Linked DNA regions of Homo sapiens. The protein of the gene in region 2 interacts with the protein of the main gene of each other region in a pairwise test. Each region holds a gene or a part of one and is shown on either strand. Other genes may lie near its edges.

Region 1 (4,101 bases), on a different chromosome or scaffold from region 2:
AAATCCATGCAAGGAGTCCTGCCTACCTTCTGGAAGTTGAAGGGAGTCTTTATCCAGAGTTTGAGGAAGAGAATCAGATCCTAGCAAAAGGCAGGTTAAAACAATTTTTCATTAAAAATGCATTATAAAGTGCTTTTATGAGGTGTTTCCCTCCTTAATTCCCTAAAGGTAACCATCATCCCAGTTTGATATTTATTTGTTGTTTCTATTTTTCCCTGCTCATTTTACATGGTCTGTTCATACACGATTTCACTGTAAACAATTCCATATACAATTTCTCATTTGAGACTCAGAACAGCCTCATGGAAGTTTATGTAATTAACCCCATTAGGCAAATTCAAGGAATTTGAGGATCAGAGGTAATGCCTGACTAAGGTCAGCGTAGCTAGCTGAGCTGGGACTGTTAGGTGTGAACTGCTGAAGGCTGTCATTGCATGTTAGCATAGAATCTGAACCTACCTGGGAGTTCGCTGCAGGAACCATTTCTCTCTTGGTCCTCAGCTCTCACTAAAACCAACCTTAGTCATGCAGTTAAGCAAGCAGGGCCTCAGAAGTGAGCCTAGAACAGCCCTGGCTCTCATGGAGGTACTTCCCCCTTCCCGCACTCTGCAGCCTCAGCTCCACCTGGAAGCGCCTCTTCCCGGACACTCCCGTTCCCGCCTGCATTCCCGTCCAATTCGACTCCCAAATGGTGTGAACTCCCTTTACCAGAGCTGTCTGGGGGGACCAGGAGGCCTGAAATCGCATGGTGCAGGCTGGCTGGGTGCTCCAGGCTGGGAGTGACCCCGTACAGAACGAAGTGCAGGTCCTCCTCCGTGAACTGGAACCGAGCAGGGGACTTCCCTTCTTGGTTGGAGGGTTTGGGACCATCCTCTGACTGCTTGCTGGGTGAGCAAGGTAATAACTGGGAGGTCCTCAGCCCCTCAGGTAACAGAGAAGCATCCGCAGGGGGCGGTGGAATTAAAGTGTCAGGTCCACAACACGGGCCACTCTCGTTGTCGCCACCAATGATTTGGTGGCCCAGATCTTCACTGCTGGCACCCGCGTACTCGTGGCTGCTGCTCAGGAAGGGCGGCACTTCCCTGGGGACGTGGGGAATTGGGTACCACGGTGGCAGCTTGCTGTACCAGGGCAGATCGTAGAGAGGCTCCCTCTGTAGGCCCAGACCCGGGCTCAGCAAGGGAGGCGCCATCCGGAAGGGGAAGGGGGGCATGGCGGGGGCAGCAGACGCTGCGGCCTCCAGCTGCCGGAAAGGTTGGAAGTCTTCCTCCACGGTGGCCAGGCTGTTTCTGTAGTGTCCATAGGACGGGAAAGGCGTGTAGTACGCGGCCAGGTTCTGCGGGCTGCTCTCCGGCGGGTAGCACACCTTGTCCTGAGGCACGGCCTCACTTGGCCGGGGTAGAGCCATCCCGGGACCGCACGCTCGGCGGCTCTGCAGAAAAGCGGGCGCCGCTGAGGACACCGCGCGGGAGCTTCCCGGGGTCCGACCCGCGCCTCCCCACCAGCCTCCTCCACCCCAGCCAGCCCCAGATCCAAGGGAACAGGATAAACGCCCCCAGTCCGATCCCGCCAGCCCGCTCCCACAATTAAGACAAAACGAAAAAACAGCAATAGAAGCAAACACAAAAAAGCCCCAAACGGAAATCTGCCGGGATCCTGCCCTACTCTAAATTCCGGGTTAGTGTTGCCTTCCCCTTCCCTCTCCAAGCACCCCTTCCCTAAGCCCGGCCGCCTTCCCACACCCGCTCTCCGCTTTCGGCCCCCAACCCGGTTCCTGCAAAACCCATTGAAGTTCCCTTTCCTTCCTTCTTCTCAGTCCTACAAAACTCGTTGGTAGGGTCTGTGGGAGCCGCGGGGCCCTGCCAACCTCGGGGCTGGGCCGGGAGCCGAGCGCAGGCGGTCGGAGGGCAATGGAGCAAGCGACAGCTCCAGGCGCTCCTGGGCCCTCGGCTGGGAGGGAAGAGCCGAGGACCCTGGGTCGCACCGCGCAGATGGAGACGCGCTCCCAGAGCCCCCGGGCAGGTCCAGGGACCCCGCGACCTGCTCTGGCCCAGCGGTGTGACCCCGCGGGTCCTGGCGGTCCTGACTGCCCGCAGGGGAGGGGCGCGCCACTTTTGGCTGCCCTAGGATGCGCCGCCTGAACCTCTTTTCCCTCGCGGGCAGCGTCCGCCACATTCCCCGGGTTCCTCGGAAACTCCAATCATTCTACCAGGACTATTGGGGCCTGGGGTAGCCCCTCGGGAGCCGCGTGGACGAGCCCTGGCCAGGTGGGAGCGAAGAGCCTCGGCGACTGCCAGTCCTCCCGCCCCCGCACCGCCGGGAAAGGATGGCGTTTTAATAGACAGGCAGCAAGTTCACCGAGGCTGAAGAATGAAGCCCCTTCAGGGCCGGCGGGTCTTGAGATCAATGAGCCCAATAAGAAAACCAAGCAGGGTCATGACTCAGAAATTAAAGAACACGGGGTCAGGAGAAGAGGTCAGCCACGACACAGGCAGCGGCCCGTCTCCTCCCGATCCTCCAAAGGCGCCCTTCTCCTAGCCTCCTCCGACCTCAGGGATCTGCAACTTGGGATTCAAAGCCCCCGAGAGGGCAGAACGACCATCCAAAACGAACTGCGCCAGCGAGTGCTGCCGCCCTCCCCAACGGCCCTGGAAGACCACCGCCCCGGGCCCCAGGCGCGTCCTGTCCCGTGCCTACCTCCGACACCACCTCCAAGAGCGCCACCGCGGAGCGGGCGCCTCCTGGACGCTGCGGGGCCACTCGGGCTCGGTAGGCCACTCGGGCTCGGTAGACTTCGGGCGGGCCCTGAGGGCTGAGCCAGGCTTAAGAGGGCGGGCGGGGCCGCGGGGCATCGACAGGTCGAGGGTAGGGAATTGACCCGGCCCACGCAGATCCCCGCGTCGTCTTCTCCCCGCCCACCGCAGCCATTGGCCGACTCTCGACTCGCCCTCTGTCCCCTGGGGTCGCTCACTTAACTCATCAGTTTTCCAAACCCTCCCTGGGACCCTAGTGGCGAGCACTCGCCGCTGGCCTTCTAGGGCAGGCAGTATTGCCGCTCCAGGCGTGCGGAGTCGGGGAGAAAAAAACCGAACACGTGTGCTACCCAGGGCCCCCAGATAAGCCCCTCCGCGCGCACACACACCCTGAACCGGAGTCCAGAAGGCCGGACTCGCGTCCCGGGGTCGAGCCCCTTACTCTCCGCTCCCAGTTCGGAAGATCCCAGCCTGCCCGAAGGCGGCGTCTGACCCGCTGGTGGACCTGGTGGGTGTCTGTTCCTGATACCTGGGGACGAGGCGGGAGCGCCTTGAGCGCTGGGAAGCTTCGCCTCGCGAGTCCCCGGCAGTGACACGTGGGAGCGTTGGGCCCGGCACCCCCGACGCTTCCGAGGTTTCGGGTGGTCGTTTTGCTCTCTCGGGGGCTTTTATTCCTTAAGTGGCTTTAAACGACCGAGGATGGGCCTCCCGCGCCGCCGCAGCTGTCACTTCCTTCGGGAAAGGCTAGCGACCTTGGACGCGCAGGCTCTGAAAACCAAGGTCCAGACCCATACCGAGCGCCCAAAGACCGCATTTGAATTCTCCTCGCCGGCCATTGAGGGAGAGAAAGGAACGCTTAGTTCCATTCACATTCACAGAAAGAAGCGCCGAGGGTGGGGGAAACGCAGTCTTGCCGGGTGAGCCGGGACAGGTTCCTCGCCTGCCCCCCGGCCGCTGCTTCCTCTTAGCTGAATGGGGAGCGACCCGCCCCGGGCGCGGCCTTCGGGGCTGAAGACTGAGGTGCAGCCTCACCCCCGGCCTGGCAGCGGCTTGGAAGAGAGAGGGAAAGGAGGAACATCTACCCGGCTAAGAGACGCCGCCAGAGTCCCTAAAGCTGGCGGGGGACGGAGGCCGGGGTCCCGGATCTTCAGAGCGCCCGCAGCCGGGCTTCTGGGCTCCTCGGTGCGGGGAACCTGACCCTGTAGCCTTCGCCAGGGCGCGGCGGGGCTGCAAGAAGGGAGGAAGGAGTGGGACTAGAGCCTTCGAGGGCGCGGGCGGCGTGCACTCAGCCTTGTCTCCCCGCGCGCCCTGCCGCCTGCTTGCCCCCTTTGCTGCACCGGGTGGCCCT
Region 2 (2,958 bases):
ATTATTATGGAGATTTGAACAGTGCTTGGCTTATAGTATTCAGTAAATGTTGATAACAATTGTCATTATCCAGAGACAGAAAATATGTTCAATATTTAAATCTTAACCTATTTTTATCAATGATTACTTGAGAAAATCAAGTGTAATTCAAGCTGAACTCTTTCAAATTGTAGGACATGTTTATTTTTAAGCCTAAATGTTATGTCTCTCTAGCCTAGCTATATAAAATAGCCTTTCTCTCAAAGCCAATGCTAGGGCAAGAAAATGGACAGGGGACTAGATTAAAAGAACTGAGAGAAACATAAAAAAAAAAAATGCAATTGAAACCTGATTGGCTCTAGATCCAAATAAAAATCTACACACTTTGGAATATGGGCTGGATATGGCTGACATTACAGAATTATTCATTTTATTAGGTATTATAATGGTATTGTGGTTATAAAGGAGGATGTCCTCAATCTTAGAAAATGTAGGCTGAAATATTTAGGGGCGAAGTACTGTGACCTCGTCACCTTATTTTCAAATGTTTCAGCAAAAAGTTATATATTTAAATAGAAAAAGCAAATGTGGCACAATATTAACAACTCATGAATTTAACTGAAGAGTTTATTATACTTTCAACTTTTCTGCAGATGTAACATTTTTTAAATAAAAAGTTGAGAATAAAAAAATCACAAAAATAGTTTTGCTGAAGAAAATACCACACATTCCTTTTTACTATAATATTTAATATAATAATATACACTTATACATTGGTATTATTTACACTTCATTAAAAAAAACCCATTCAACCTGAAATTAACTACCTTAAACACACTATTTAACTTTCAGTGCTAATGTATTAATTTCTTAAATATAAATCAAAATAGCTCAATATCTAAATTACTGATAACTAGATGCAGATGTAAGGATCATGAATCAATACTTCCATTAAGTTAAAAATATCAATAATTTTTTGCAACATTTCTTCTTTGTTTTTCTTCTTTGTCTAGAATAGTCTGTTTTAAGCTCAAAGTAGCATCTTGAAATCCAGGATTTAAGTCTAAGACCTTCTTGAAATCTTCCAAAGCATCATCAAAATATCCTGTACCAGAACCCAAAAAATGGAAAAGAGAAAAGAAACCGAGTATTTCTATATATTATTCATGGAAAAGCTTTGATACATGTACTTTTGCTTTTATATTTATGAGCTTTCAGTCACTTCTAGTAAAGGAATCTTTTTATCTTAATAATATAGAGATGTGTATATCAAAGTAATTTTGTGTGCCCTTAGGGAATAATACACCTAAAATTAGCTATGGGTTTATTTATTGAGATTTAACAGGTAAATATTATCAATCATCTTAAAATTTTAATAAAACTGTATCACCTGTTTTACATAATTGCAGTAAAATTAAGAAACGGGAACTAATTTTCTTTTTGACACTTTAAATGAAGAAACACTACCTATGGTCCCTTTAATCCAAGAATCTAAACTTCACTTTCTATTGTCTTGTGTGTCTTCAAAGATTTTAACTCAGAAAAGTTTCACAGGTGAACATCTGAATTGCCCTCATTTCACAGCTGGGAATGCACAAGCACAAAGTAATGGGGTCACCCCTGCTCCTGCGCCCAGGTCCAATTCCCACCCCAGTGCTCTGCTGTGATCTATAACGCCTATCAAAAGCCTAAAATAAACTCAGGGACACTTCCTTTGTTCCAAGCTCTAAACCTAAATTTCACAGAACTTTAAAATTTGATTACCACGTTAGTTTTACAACATTTGAAAGCTCTGAAATAACAGAATACAGTCAATGACAAAACTCAAAAAGAAAAAAAATTCTTACCCAGCCTATACAGTATCAACCCTCTGTTGTAATATGGAACTTCAAAATTGGGTTGGACTTCTATGGCAGATGTGTAGTCATCCATGGCTTCATAAAAATCAACCCTGAAGTACTTGATTTGCCCCCTGTTGTTATATGCAGTAGCCAAATCCTCAGGGCTGCATTTGCTTTAAACAAAAAGTTCACATTAAAAACACCGTGTTACCAAATTCCTCTCATTTCCACTTTCATTCTCTTTTGGGTATTGTCAAACTTCACAGCCTATAACATGCAGCATCAACACTGAAAATCCAAGCTGAAGAAAAAACGTACAAATAAAGAGCTAAAATCAATTTTTGTTTAACCCTGTTATCTACTTTTGTAGGGTTATACCACTGCAATGTCAACCTGAAAAGCATACTAACTTTACAGTGTGTTCACTGCCAATTTGTTCTGCTGAATATAACATTAAAATGATTGTTCATTTTTCTAAGCACACACCAGCAGGGCAAAGAAGACAGAACAGATAAATACTAAGCAAAGAGGGAAAGCCAGCCCAAAGCCCGAGTTTGCTATGGATATGTCACAATGTGAATCAATTTCATTCTCAAATTTTTAAGTGATCTTAAAACAATAAGATTTGAAATCATTTTCCACCAATAAAAAACTAAAGTTAACGCTAAGTGAAAATTCAACATGCTACGATCCCCAGGAAGTTATCTCTGGGGACAGAGTTGCCCTCCCTCCAGCCTCAGCTGGCATCCTCCCCAATGCCAGGCTGGCTTCCTGCTAGGAGGGTGGGCTCCTTTAGACCCCCTCAGGGCTCCAGTCAATTTTGATGTCCTTTGTGCAGAACTGGCTCTGCACCTGAGGGAACTAGAGGTTGCCCAAAGAGCTTTAAATTAGCAGCCATTCCTGGGCTGTACAGCCAGGTAGCTCTGACCAGCCACCAGCTCAACAGGTCACAGCCCCTGGCTGCCTTGAACCTTTCTCTGCACAGGACAAATAGTCTGCACAGAGAACATTAGTGCCTCTGCTCTGAGTCAGGGATGATTCTGTTTCCCTTTCTTTTTTCCCAAAGCAATTCTCAAATTAGAACCAAACAGAGAATTCATCTGTCACTTCTTTGTAATACCCCGTAGTAAAAAGTATA

Evidence for each region. Proteins that work in one complex are often made in the same cells at the same time.
Region 1: the proteins of TTC32 (region 2) and PRDM14 interact in binary tests that used the Homo sapiens proteins (3 or more experiments, as listed by UniProt).

What each region holds. Positions count from the first base shown.
Region 1 is NC_000008.11:70,068,453-70,072,553, forward strand, and holds the start of PRDM14 (PR domain zinc finger protein 14), read right to left. Parts: upstream 2,801-4,101; 5' UTR 2,698-2,800; intron 1,433-2,697; 5' UTR 1,409-1,432; coding exon 709-1,408; intron 81-708; coding exon 27-80; intron 1-26. UniProt on the Homo sapiens protein: Transcription factor that has both positive and negative roles on transcription. Required for the maintenance of embryonic stem cell identity and the reacquisition of pluripotency in somatic cells.
Region 2 is NC_000002.12:19,896,043-19,899,000, forward strand, and holds the end of TTC32 (tetratricopeptide repeat protein 32), read right to left. Parts: intron 1,994-2,958; coding exon 1,827-1,993; intron 1,085-1,826; coding exon 945-1,084; 3' UTR 589-944; downstream 1-588.